Homo sapiens: one gene and its partners. The protein of the gene in region 2 purifies or fractionates together with the protein of the main gene of each other region. This does not show direct contact. Each region holds a gene or a part of one and is shown on either strand. Other genes may lie near its edges. The genes, in order: PFKL, MTHFD1 and ALDH18A1.

Region 1 (3,745 bases), on a different chromosome or scaffold from region 2:
GCACACACACAGCCCACCTTGGCCTTACCTCGTAGATGAGGAAGACTTTGGCACCCACATAAATGCCCATGCGCGTCACAGCCCGGACAGCAGCGTTCATGCCTGTGGAGGTCAGGGCAAACCTGTCAGTCCCACGCTGAGAAGCAAGGCCCTGGACACCCTCCCCATCTCAGAGGACAGGGGGTAGGGGAGGCCTGGACACCCTGTCCATCTCAGAGGGCGGGTGGTGGGGGAAGGCCCTGGTCACCCTCCTCATCTCAAGAGGGCAAGGGTCAGGGAAGGCCCGGACGCCCTCCCCATCTCAGAGGGCAGGGGGTAGGGAAGGCCTGGTCACCCTCCCCATCTCAGGAGGCACCAGGCCAGGAAACTTGAGGACCAGCCCTGGGCCCCCGGGTGGAGGCTCGGGTGAACCCAGCAGGCTCTAGGCTTCAGCTTCCGAGCACCTGGAGTATGGTGCCCAGAGATAAACTGGGAACATCCCATGCAGAGCATGGCAATCAGGCATGTGTGGGTGTCCCGAACTCCACACCCCGCCGCCCCAACCTCTGCCACGGAGCCCCCACACTCACAGGCCACGGGGCCAGGCCTTGACCACAGAGCAGGATAAAAAGTGGGGCAGGTGGAAAAGAGGCCGGCACCTCCCACACCGGCCCCACCCCAGACATTCAGGCTGCGGCGTGGGGATGGAGAAGCCGGGGAGCACCTCTGGGCACTGAGGAAAGCACCTGCTGGAAGGGGCTTGGGCTCCTTCCTCCGCAATGAGATGGGGGACTGAGAACAGAGCCCCTCCGGCCTCAGCCACCCAGGGAACAGCACTGCCCTGCCCCAGGGCCTCAGGGACCCTCACCCCCCAGCCTGGACATGATGCTGGTGCCACCAGGCTCTGAGGTCACTTCCTCTTTCCTGTCCCCTTGCCCTCGGCTCCCAGGACTGCAGTGAAAGAAACAGTCTGTCCCAGCGGGGGCCTTGGCAAAGCCAGTTTCCTGGAGAGGGACATTAACGGGGGAGGCGGCACTCAGGAAACGCTGGTGCTAATGTACCCCACACCTTCTTCCCGAGAGCCCCCATCTCAAAAGATATCCATGACTTCATACAAAAGGGGCAGCCAAGACCACCTAATCTTCAGAGAGGAGGAAACCCACGCCAGCGGCCAGGGTCCCCTTCTGAGTGAGGTCTGGGGCCGTGTAACAGGCCTGAGTTTGTGCTTGCCCCTGGGACCAGCCCTGCTCTTCCTGCCTCCCTCCCAGCACCCATACCATGCCATCCATCCCTAAGCCATGCGGGTCCTCTGTCCCCAAGCCTCGTGCCCCTCAAAAGCCCCTGCCCTCCCACCCCCCTGTACTTGCAGAGGCTGGAGGTGCTGACCTGCTGGGGGCTCCTGCTCAAGCCTCGGCAGCTCCCTTGAACATGGAGACCCCCACGAGAGGACTCTCGACCTCTACCCTGGTTACACATGCTTCTCATCCGCTCTCCAGCTTGGCGTGGGGCTCAGCAGCAGGGAGCAGGTGTGAGGTGAGGTGCCACGCCTTGAGAAACCCCAGGGATCGGCACACTGTTCTCACGTAGCAGCCAGAGTATCTGCCACCATCCCCACACTACAGGAATCCAATGAGATCCCAGAGGGAGGGTGAGGGACCTTCCAGAGCCCAGCAGGTGGCAGCAGAGCCAGGACTCACCCAGACCCACCCTCAGGTTCAGTAGGTGGCCCTCTCCCCACCCAGCAGCCAGGGGATCCAACAGGGGGGCCAGAGCCAAGCCCGGCAGCCATCCAGAAGAAGGGGCACAGACGTTAGAATGGGCAGAGCACAGAGCGTGCAGGGAGCTGGAGCTGCCCACACTGGCAGCTTCTCCACTTGAGCAAGCAACGCCGTCTCTAAAGGAACAGTGCCTCCCTCACATCCCCACATAGATGGGAGCACGGCTGCTACAGCTGAAACTGGGGCGGGAACCCAGCAAGCATCCCACACACACCCAGAAAGCCAAGCCCCCCAGACAGACAGACAAGCTCCCCCAGAAAGACAGCCGAGCCCCCCAGACAGCCGAGCCCCCCGCAGACAGCCAAGCCCCCCGAGACAGACAGCCGAGCCCCCCCCAGACAGCTGAGCCACCCCAAGCACCCGACAACCAAAAACAGTCAGCAGAGCCAAGTCCTGCTGCCTGAGGCTGGGCGTCCAAGGTGGTGCTGTGAGTGCAGCGCCCTGTCCCCCACCCTCACTGGAGTTGGGGGCAGTGAGGGAGATCCACTCAGCCACAGCTGGCCGAAGCTAAGCCTCCGTCCCTCCCTCGCCCTCCCTGCAGACCTGGTCCCACCACAGGTCCAAGCCCACCTCTGGCAGGCAGCAGCTGAGGCAGGGCAAGGAGAGGGCAGGAGCAGCGCACCCAGGCCACCGTCCAACCACAGGGCCTCTCTGGTCTCCCCAGCTCCAGGCGGAGTCAATGTGCCACTGGGCGGGTCAGCCCAGGGTCACAGCCATCTCAGCAGGGGGCCTGGTGGGCTTGTCAGGGGACCTGGGAACGGCAAAGGGGCCCCAGGATCAGGGGTCAGCAAGGGTACCCCTCACTTCCAAATGTCTTCAGGGTGCTCTGCAAAATAAAACCTGCTTTGACGCCCGGAGACAATGAAGCTGCCAAAACCCAGCTTTGTGCTGAGCCCTTGGGAGGAGAACAAAGTGGCCATGTCACATGGCCACTTTGTTGTTGGGACTGGATTTTAGAACGGGACTGGAAAGGGACACGTTCTGGATTTTAGAACGGGACTGGCTGCGGCCTGAAGGAGGAAATTTTCTCTGTTAACCTCATTGGAAGCTGTAATCTTCAAAAGACCTTTTTAATGGCCCTTTAATCGGCTTTTCTTTCTCAAAATAAACCTCGGGCAGCAGTCGCCGACACCGCAGTCAGAGGGCAGGCAGGACAGTGGGCCTGCCGCTGCCTACCAGCAGGTGATAGCCACCCCTGCCCAGGAAAAAAGGCTGGAACAAAATCAATGTCTGAGGTTGGTGCGCTGGTTCCCAGTGACCTTTCCTCACCATTAGCTCCCAGGCAAGAAAGCAGTGAGCATGAAATGGTCACAAAGTTTAATGATCAGCTAAGGATGTAAGCATGAGCCTGAAGGCTCCAAACAGGAGGCCATGTCAGGGAGGCGTGGCGGGCCAGGAAGCTAAGTCCTCACCTGCGATAACAGGAAACCAACGTCCAAACACACCAGCCAGGGAAAGGCAGGGCACGGTGTCCTGCAGGGGCAGGGAGGGGGCACTAGACAAAGGGCCCAGAGAATTAAAAGTGCCCAGGCCAGGGCGAGATGAAGGTAGGCATAGGCAGGCCGGGCCATTTTTTTTTTTTTTTTTTTTTTGGTCAAGTCTGTTTTTTTTTTTTGAGACAGAGTCTCGTTCTGTCACCCAGGCTGGAGTGCAGTGGCGGGATCTTGGCTCACTGCAACCTCTGCCTCCCCGGTTCAAGCGATTCTCCTGCCTCTGCCTCCCGAGTAGCTGGGACTACAGGCATGTACCACCACGCCTGGCTGATTTTTGGGGTTTTTTCTTGTTTGTTTTTTGCAACAGAGTCTCGCTCTGTCGCCCAGGCTAGAGTGCCGTGGCTCGATCTCGGCTCACTGCAACCTGCACCTCCTGGTTCAAGCGATTCTCCTGCCTCAGCCTCCTGAGTAGCTGGGATTACAGATGCGCACCACCATGCCCAGCTAATTTTTTGTATTTTTAGTAGAGACGAGGTTTCACCATGTTAGCCAGGA
Region 2 (3,745 bases):
TCCTGGGTTCAAACGATTCTCCTGCCTCAGCCTCCCAGGTAGCTGGGACTACGGGCATGCACTACTATGCCCGGCTAATTTTTGAATTTTTAGTAGAGATGGGGTTTCGCCATGTTGGTCAAGCTGGTCTTGAACTCCTGACCTCAAGTGATCTGTCCACCTCCACCTCCTAAAGTGCTAGGATTACAGGTGTGAGCCACTGCGCCCCCGCTGGCGCTTTGCTTTTTCTTTACAGTCTTCCTCTCATTAGCATGTTTCCCACCCTGCTGAGAATGCTATCCCTGACTCGTCCTCTTCTATTATTATTCTCCTTTTATGCCTTCCTGGGAGCTCGGACATCAACAAAGTTCAGCATTCCAGATTCCTTCTCTACCTGCTCTACTCTGTGGGAAACTGGGTACTTACATGATGGATTTAGTTGCCAAATTATCTTTCTTTGGAAGTAACAGCCCCTTTTCTCCCTCACGGGGAATTCTAAGTTTGCAGCCTGAATTTGACAACCGGGGGAAGGTCTGAGAGTTAGAGACAAGTATCTGTTCTTTGTGGGTATTTATTCACTTACTCAACAAGTAGCTGTATGTGTCCCCTAAGCCAGGCAATCTTCAAAGCTCTGAGAGTCTAATAGTGAACAAAACAGCCCAAATCCCTACCCTCATGAAACTTGCATACTGATGGGTAGAGACAGACATTTAAATAGGTGAAACACATTGTGAGCTGGTGGGAAGCACAAAGAGAACACCAGAGCAGAAAAGAGGGACAGGAGTTTCTGTGGTATGGTGGCTGCAATTTTAAATATGGGAGTCATAGTCTTTGTAAAAGTGACTTACGGGCAAAGACTTGAAGGAGGTGGAGCCTTAAGCCTGCCAATGTTGTGAGGGAAATAGCTCCTGACCAAAAACACAGCCTGTGCCATAGACCTTTGTCCTCACCAGTTACTAACTTACTGCTTTGGGGGGTCAATGGCAATGGCCCTGTGAGAAGCTGACCGAGTGGAGGCTCCTGAGTAGAGGAACCTGACCCTGCCCTGGGCAGAAGGGTGGTGTCTTTTAAAAGATTATGCAAAGTGGGAGAAGGATGTGCATTAGTGTTGGAAGACCCACCTTGCTTTGTAGGCAAGAAAGCATAGTTGTTCTATAAGTGGGCCTTTCAAAGGGGGGCTTACTACATTTATATGATTTGTTTGGTTTTTCCTTCCCTTAGTTTGCTATAATTAAGCCTGCTCTCTCCATTGGTGGCATTTTTCTTGATTAAGTCTCCTTTCTAAAGAGACTGGTTGTGAAGAGGCAGATGGTTTGAGTAGGTGCTGCGAGTGTTTGCTGGCCAAGTGCAGGGCAAGTTGGGTATATTTGTAAGCTCGCTGTGGATGGTAGCTCCAGAGCCTAAGCACGGTGCTGCCTCCTCTGTGCATCACTGGGTCATGCAATTTACCTCTGTGCCTTAGCTTCTGTATATTGGGGTAGTAATGTCACCTAACTCATAAGGTTGTTAGAATTAAATGAGTTTAATACCTATAAAGCATTTAGAGAAGTTGTTGGTACATGGTAAGTTTTAATAAATAGGTACTTAGAAAGTACTCATTGAATAAAAAAGTGATGTTTGTGTTTATCCAGGCTGTACCTTTGGGAGCTGGCTTATAATCTTGAGACTTAAAATTAGAATTTATCCTAGTGATCAAAGATAAAAGTTTGGAACCTTGGCTGTACATTTAGCTACAGGGCTAGAAGAACTGTTTTTGTGAAAATAATTTGCTTACCATAGTGAAGGGCAGGTCTTCTTGGTTACTAAGTTAACATGGATAAGACTTTTACTTTGTCCTGTAGATTAAATACATGTAGGCCCTTTTGTGCTTAAAAAGATTTGTCTGGGCAGGGCGTGGTGGCTCATGCCTGTAATCCTAGGACTTTGGGAGGCCCAGGCAGGAGGATCACCTGAGATCAGGAGTTGGAGACCAGCCTGACTAACATGGTGAAACCCCATCTCTACTAAAAATACAAAATTAGCTGGGCATGGTGGCCCATGCCTGTAATCCCAGCTACTCCAGAGGCTGAGACAGGAGAATGGCTTGAACCTGGGAGGAGGAGGTTGCAGTGAGCCAGTGAGCCAAGATGGCGCCATTGCACTCCAGCCTGGGCAACAAGAGCAAAACTTCATCTCAGAAAGAAAAAAAAAAAAAATTTGCCTGTAATGAACTCCAAAGTGCAGGTTGCTCAAAAGTTACATGGAAACTTGACTGTCATAGCTGGATTGATTCTGGAAGCCTGTGCAGGAGAGGTCGGAGTTCCAGAGAGGCTGGGACCTTCAGCTAGGACCCCAGCCAGGCTGTTGGGCAGGTTGCAGCGATAGTGCAGCAGAGCCCAGAGCTGGCAGCCAACTACTATGGTCATGGCACCTGATTGGGGATGTGGTTTGCAAATAAGTGTCTGTCCTTGTCCATCAGGGGAGTTGGGATCAGGCAGTTTGGGATTTGGGTAGTGGGGTTTTGAGCAGAGGTCTGTGGTTCCCTGTTACATCCCCTATTTGCATGAAGAATCTTCTAGAAGGAAAGCTGGCCTAGTACAGAGGAGGGTCCTTGGAGTGGAAGCAAATGGCTCCCTTCTCCTCTAATTGACTCAGTAGAGGTTGGTAGAATAGAGGTTAAGGGGCAGGGATGCTTGTGTGGCCTTGGAAAAGTTAGCTTCACTTTCCTTTCTGTGCAGTAGGGATGATGAGAACTGTCTACTTCCTGACGTTGCCCCAAGGATTAAAAGAATGTAAGACTCTCAAAACAAGCTTCTTTGACGTCCCATCCACAGTGCAGAAGGCCCCCATTACCCCTGCACTGTGCGGTTGGCTCTCCTTTGCACCCCTTAATTGACCAAAAAGCAGCTTCTGTCACCCTGTAAATCCTTGACCTTGAAGAAGTGGGTGGCTAAAGGTGCCACAGTCAAGATTCCTCAGCCACTCGGCTACTACCCTTACCCTCAATTTTGCAGTTTATGACACTTTAGCCAGAAGCTAAGTGACTTGCCCAGGTGTTCCAAGGTAGGTGGCAGAGGCTCGATGGTGCATTTCTTTCCCTACCATGGGCTTGTCATTGGCTTGCTAGAAGGAATTGCAAACTTCTACCCTCCAGCAGGAGACACCCTGGGTTTGGTTCTCCCTGAGGCCTTTCCATTGTGAGGAAATCATTCCACCCATCAGTCTGGTTGGGAAGCACCCAAACAGATTCTCTTCAAAAAGTCATTTTTGAAGTTATAGTCCAATTTTGACTGGTTAGAGACAGGTCAGACCTACTTACTTTGCTGGCTAAGCTTTTTTTTTTTCTTTGCCCCTCACCACAAGCCTGGACGGGAGACGTACTGCTTGGTATCTGGTGCTTGAGAGGTCCCAGGAGATAAGGGAGCATTTCTGTGAAAGGTTTTGCCAGAGCCTGTCAGGAACTTAATCTTGACTGCAATGAATGACTTAACATTATAAGTGATCTTTGGGTTTAGGTGCCCAAATACCAGTCCCTCCTTAGTAAGCAGCCTTTTAGACCTAACCTTTTCTACCTAAGGTTTTGTTCAGTCTTTTTGAAAAGCAGGAAGGCCAGGTCCTTGTGAGGCTTTTCTCATTACAAGCTCTTGGCAGGTTCTTCCCTCCAAGTGGAGAACCCTTACCTTCCCCATTCTTTCTACCTTCCCCTCTGATGATCCAGAGGGCTGCAAGGGACCTAGAGCTGTTCATTGGAGCCCTAGTCAGCTCTAGCGGCCAGATCTATGGTTAG
Region 3 (3,745 bases), on a different chromosome or scaffold from region 2:
GGATACCAGCCAGACCCCTCTCCTGTCATGTCCTACTGCAAGTAGCCTCTTTTCACGGGGTGTCTCACACCTCTGCATATATCATTCCCTTATTCCCTCTTCCTCATATGATCCTGTACTCCTCTCCTCTTTTAGGTAAACTCCTTACTTCTAGTGCTTCAAAGCACAATTTGAATATCAACTCTTTTTAAAGCCATTGTATTAGTCTGTTTTCACACTGTTACAAAGACATACCCAAGACTGGGTAATTTATAAAGAAAAGAGATTTAGATGATTCACAGTTTCACATGGCTGGGGAGGTTTCAGGAAACTTACAATCATGGTGGAAGGGGAAGAGGCAAGTCTTACATGGTGGCAGGCAGGAGAAAGCAAACCAGTGAAGGGGGAAGAGTCCCTTATAAAACCACCAGATCTCATAAGAACTCACTATCACAAGAACAGCATGGGGGAAACAGTCCCATGATCCAATCACCTCCCATCAGGTCCCACCCTCCATAGGTGGGGATTATGGGAATTACAATTCAAGGTGAGATTTGGGTGGGGACACAAAGTCAAACCATTTCAGCCATCCCTGAATGTCTGGCCATCCCATTCTTTAGTATTCATCACATGGTATTGTAATTATTTGCTCATATATCTCTCTCTTCCATAAGGCTGTGAACTCAGCTATGTCTTCTTCCACACCCAGGGAATGCTTGGCTGTCTCAGTCCATTTTGTGCTGCTAAAACACAATAACACAGACTGGATAATTTTTAAATAATAGAAATTTATTTCTCACAGTTCTAGAGGCTAGGAAGTCCAAGATCAAGGTGCCAGCATCTGGTGAGGGCTTTCTTGCTGTATCCTCACGTGGTGGAAGGGCAGAAGAGCAGAAGAGAACACCCACCTCCACAAACCTTTTGATAGCAGCATTAATCTATTCATGAGGGTCACTCTATTCATAAAGGTGGAGCACTCTTGACCCAAATGCCTCCCATTAGGCCCCACCTCCCAATATTCTTGCATTGGGAATTAAGTTTCCAACATATGAATTTTGGGGGACATATTCAGACCATAGCAGTAGCCAGTGTTTAATAAACAAGAAAATGAATAAATAGGCTTAGTAGTGTTATCAGGGACGACAGAAGGGCATGATGCCTTTCTGTGCCCAACCTCCTATCAAGTGCTGCCCTCCCACCACCCAGCACTATGTGCCTATGCAGGAATGTGTCCTTTGAGCAAAATACAGCAAGGAAAGAGGGAGAAAAATCTGTGTTTTCACTTTTTTTCTTTTTCTTTTTAAGAGGTGGGGTCTTGCTGTGTTGTCCAGGCTGGATTTGAACTCCTGGGCTCAGGTGGTTCTCCTGCCTCCACCTACGAGTAGCTGGGACTACAGGCACACACCACAGTGCCAGGTTTTTGTGGTCTCTCTTTAAAGGTGAGTCTGCATTCACCTTTGGAATAGTTCTAGTTGTCATAGATTGAATATCCTATTTTAAAATGCAATATTCTTACAACTGCCTTTGATGAAAGGGAGTTGAGATGGGACCATTGGGGAAACCTCCAGATGACTAGGGGGCAAGTAATTTGATTGCAGTGCCAAAATGCTTCCATTTAAGGAGCCAAAGTTTGCAAATGTGTGTAAACTGATCCAATCTATTCCCAGGATGTGCCTGAAGTAACAAACATATGTAAGTTGATCCAACCTATTTCCGAGGTGTGCCCGGGATATAAATGGTTAACATTGACAAACACACCTTATGAAATCTACCAGCAGCTGAGGGTGCCAGGCACCTCTTCTACCTCCCTGGAAGGCCCAGTGGGGCGGCGTTTCGAAGGTGTCTTCGCCCCTGTCTCCGGCCCCTGTCCCCTCCCGGGACGTGGGCGTTCCCCCTGAACTCGAGTCCCGCCTCTTCCAGGCTGCCGGGGCCTGGTGGGCTGGCCCGCCACGTGGAGCGCTGGCTTGATTCTCGAAAGGGGCCTACGCCATTGCCGCGCCGCAGCTCCAGGACAGGCCCTCGCCCCACGTCAACAGCGTAGGGCCGGCTGCCCAGGTTTACTCTTACGCCACTGACGTAACGTCATCGTGCGGGACGTGGACGGAAGAAAAAAGAGAGTGAGCGAGCGCCGGAATCAGCCCGGCGTGGAGTGCGGACCCGCGGTAGTGCCAGGGGGCGAAGGCGGCGGTGGTGAGGAAGGTACGCGGCGAGCGGCGGGGATGGCTAGGCGCCCGCGTCTCTGCGGAAGCTGTTGCGCGCCCAGGCTCAAGCGCGAGGGGCGTGAGCGCCGGGCCGCTGGAGCGGGGACGCTGCCGGAGCAGGTGCCGGGGCCCGGGGATCTGGCCCATGGGTAGGTGTGGGCCTCGGCCGAGGGATGGCGGCTGCATCGGGCCGCCCAGGGCGCGCTGCAAGACCGTGGCGCGCTCCCATATGCCGGTGCGCGGCCGCCCCGGGATCTACGGATGGCTACGGGCCCTGACCTCCCCGGCCTCCCCTGGGTACACCATGTAAGGAACTGGGCCAAGTGGAGACTTCAGGCATCCGCGGGCCCCTTCTTTCCAAGAGTATGGAGCCTGCACTGGTGGGTGGCGTGGGTGGCGGTGGTGGCAGCGCCGGGATGCCGCGGGTTTTAGCTGGCCGCACGCTGACTCTCAGGGGCCTGGGTCCCTAGTTCCCCGCGGCCCTCCAGGCGTTCATCATCCCCTCCTCAAAGCCAGACTCCCTTTGCAGTATGGCATTCTGTGTATGCTGGGGTCTTCCTGTTACAGCAGGACGCACCCACATACCCCACCTCGTCCTTCCCCCATCATTATCCCCTGCCCTCTGAGGTGGTGAGGCCCATCGGATCTTTGTATTTAAGTGGTGAGCCATATACCGAGCATGTGTTTGTGGGTGAACTGTGCTGGGACTGAGGTTCACTTCTCTGTTCAAATCAGTTAGATAAGGGCATTCTGTTTAGTCTGTAAAGAGATATTGAGAAATGTCTTGAGTCAAAACGTGAAAACTTTCTTCAACTGATGATATGGAGTCTAAACACACACACAGAGTCGAGACACAGTCACACAAATCTAGACACGAGTCTAGATACACACACACACACACACACACACACACTCTCTTTGCTCCTTGGGATCAACTGTGTGCTTCTCGAGGGCGTAATACACTCTGCCTGGTCAGTCAGAGATGGTGGTACAGGGGAGAGGTCAGGAGGCTTGGTTTCTACGTCAGTCTTCAATCTCTTATTTCAGTGACCGTAGGTGTTCAGAGCTTTCAATGACTCTTGGTTAATAGAGAGGTAAACAGTCAGTCAATATATGTGTGTGATTGTATCTAATAGTGAATATTCGTTGAATTCTTTGTTCCCGTGATGGGTCTTGAAGGAAATTAAGGAAAAAATAATTGTAAGGCATCATTAGTGCCTAAAAGACAAAAGGAGGAAAACTGACATTTACTGACCATTTGTTGTACCCAAGCACTTTCCACGCATTCTCTCTTTTAATTCTCACTATAATTTCATGAGGTCCATAGTGTTAGTATCCCTGATTTATAAGTGAGGAAACAGAGGCTTAGAAAAATTGGGTAACTCTTACATATGTAACTAACCTGCACATTGTGCACATGTACCCTAAAACTTAAAGTATAATAATAATAATAATAATAATAATAAAGAAAAATTGGGTAACTCTCCACAAGACACACAGCAAGTGCAGAGCTCGAACCCAAATCTGACCAACTTCAAAGGCCTTGTTCCTCATCGTTTTTGCCA

Evidence for each region.
Region 1: the proteins of MTHFD1 (region 2) and PFKL fractionate together in Homo sapiens (co-fractionation; 2 studies listed by BioGRID). This does not show direct contact.
Region 3: the proteins of MTHFD1 (region 2) and ALDH18A1 purify together in Homo sapiens (affinity purification with mass spectrometry; 2 studies listed by BioGRID, with this or other methods). This does not show direct contact.

The regions. Positions count from the first base shown.
Region 1 is NC_000021.9:44,303,038-44,306,782, reverse strand, and holds part of PFKL (ATP-dependent 6-phosphofructokinase, liver type), read right to left. Parts: intron 3,226-3,745; exon of another isoform or gene 3,170-3,225; intron 2,509-3,169; exon of another isoform or gene 2,328-2,508; intron 1,611-2,327; exon of another isoform or gene 1,465-1,610; coding exon of another isoform or gene 1,366-1,464; intron 984-1,365; coding exon of another isoform or gene 848-983; intron 103-847; coding exon 29-102; intron 1-28. UniProt on the Homo sapiens protein: Catalyzes the phosphorylation of D-fructose 6-phosphate to fructose 1,6-bisphosphate by ATP, the first committing step of glycolysis.
Region 2 is NC_000014.9:64,391,254-64,394,998, forward strand, and holds part of MTHFD1 (C-1-tetrahydrofolate synthase, cytoplasmic), read left to right. Parts: intron 1-3,745. UniProt on the Homo sapiens protein: Trifunctional enzyme that catalyzes the interconversion of three forms of one-carbon-substituted tetrahydrofolate: (6R)-5,10-methylene-5,6,7,8-tetrahydrofolate, 5,10-methenyltetrahydrofolate and (6S)-10-formyltetrahydrofolate.
Region 3 is NC_000010.11:95,655,030-95,658,774, reverse strand, and holds the start of ALDH18A1 (delta-1-pyrroline-5-carboxylate synthase), read left to right. Parts: upstream 1-2,063; 5' UTR 2,064-2,178; exon of another isoform or gene 2,179-2,486; intron 2,487-3,745. UniProt on the Homo sapiens protein: Bifunctional enzyme that converts glutamate to glutamate 5-semialdehyde, an intermediate in the biosynthesis of proline, ornithine and arginine.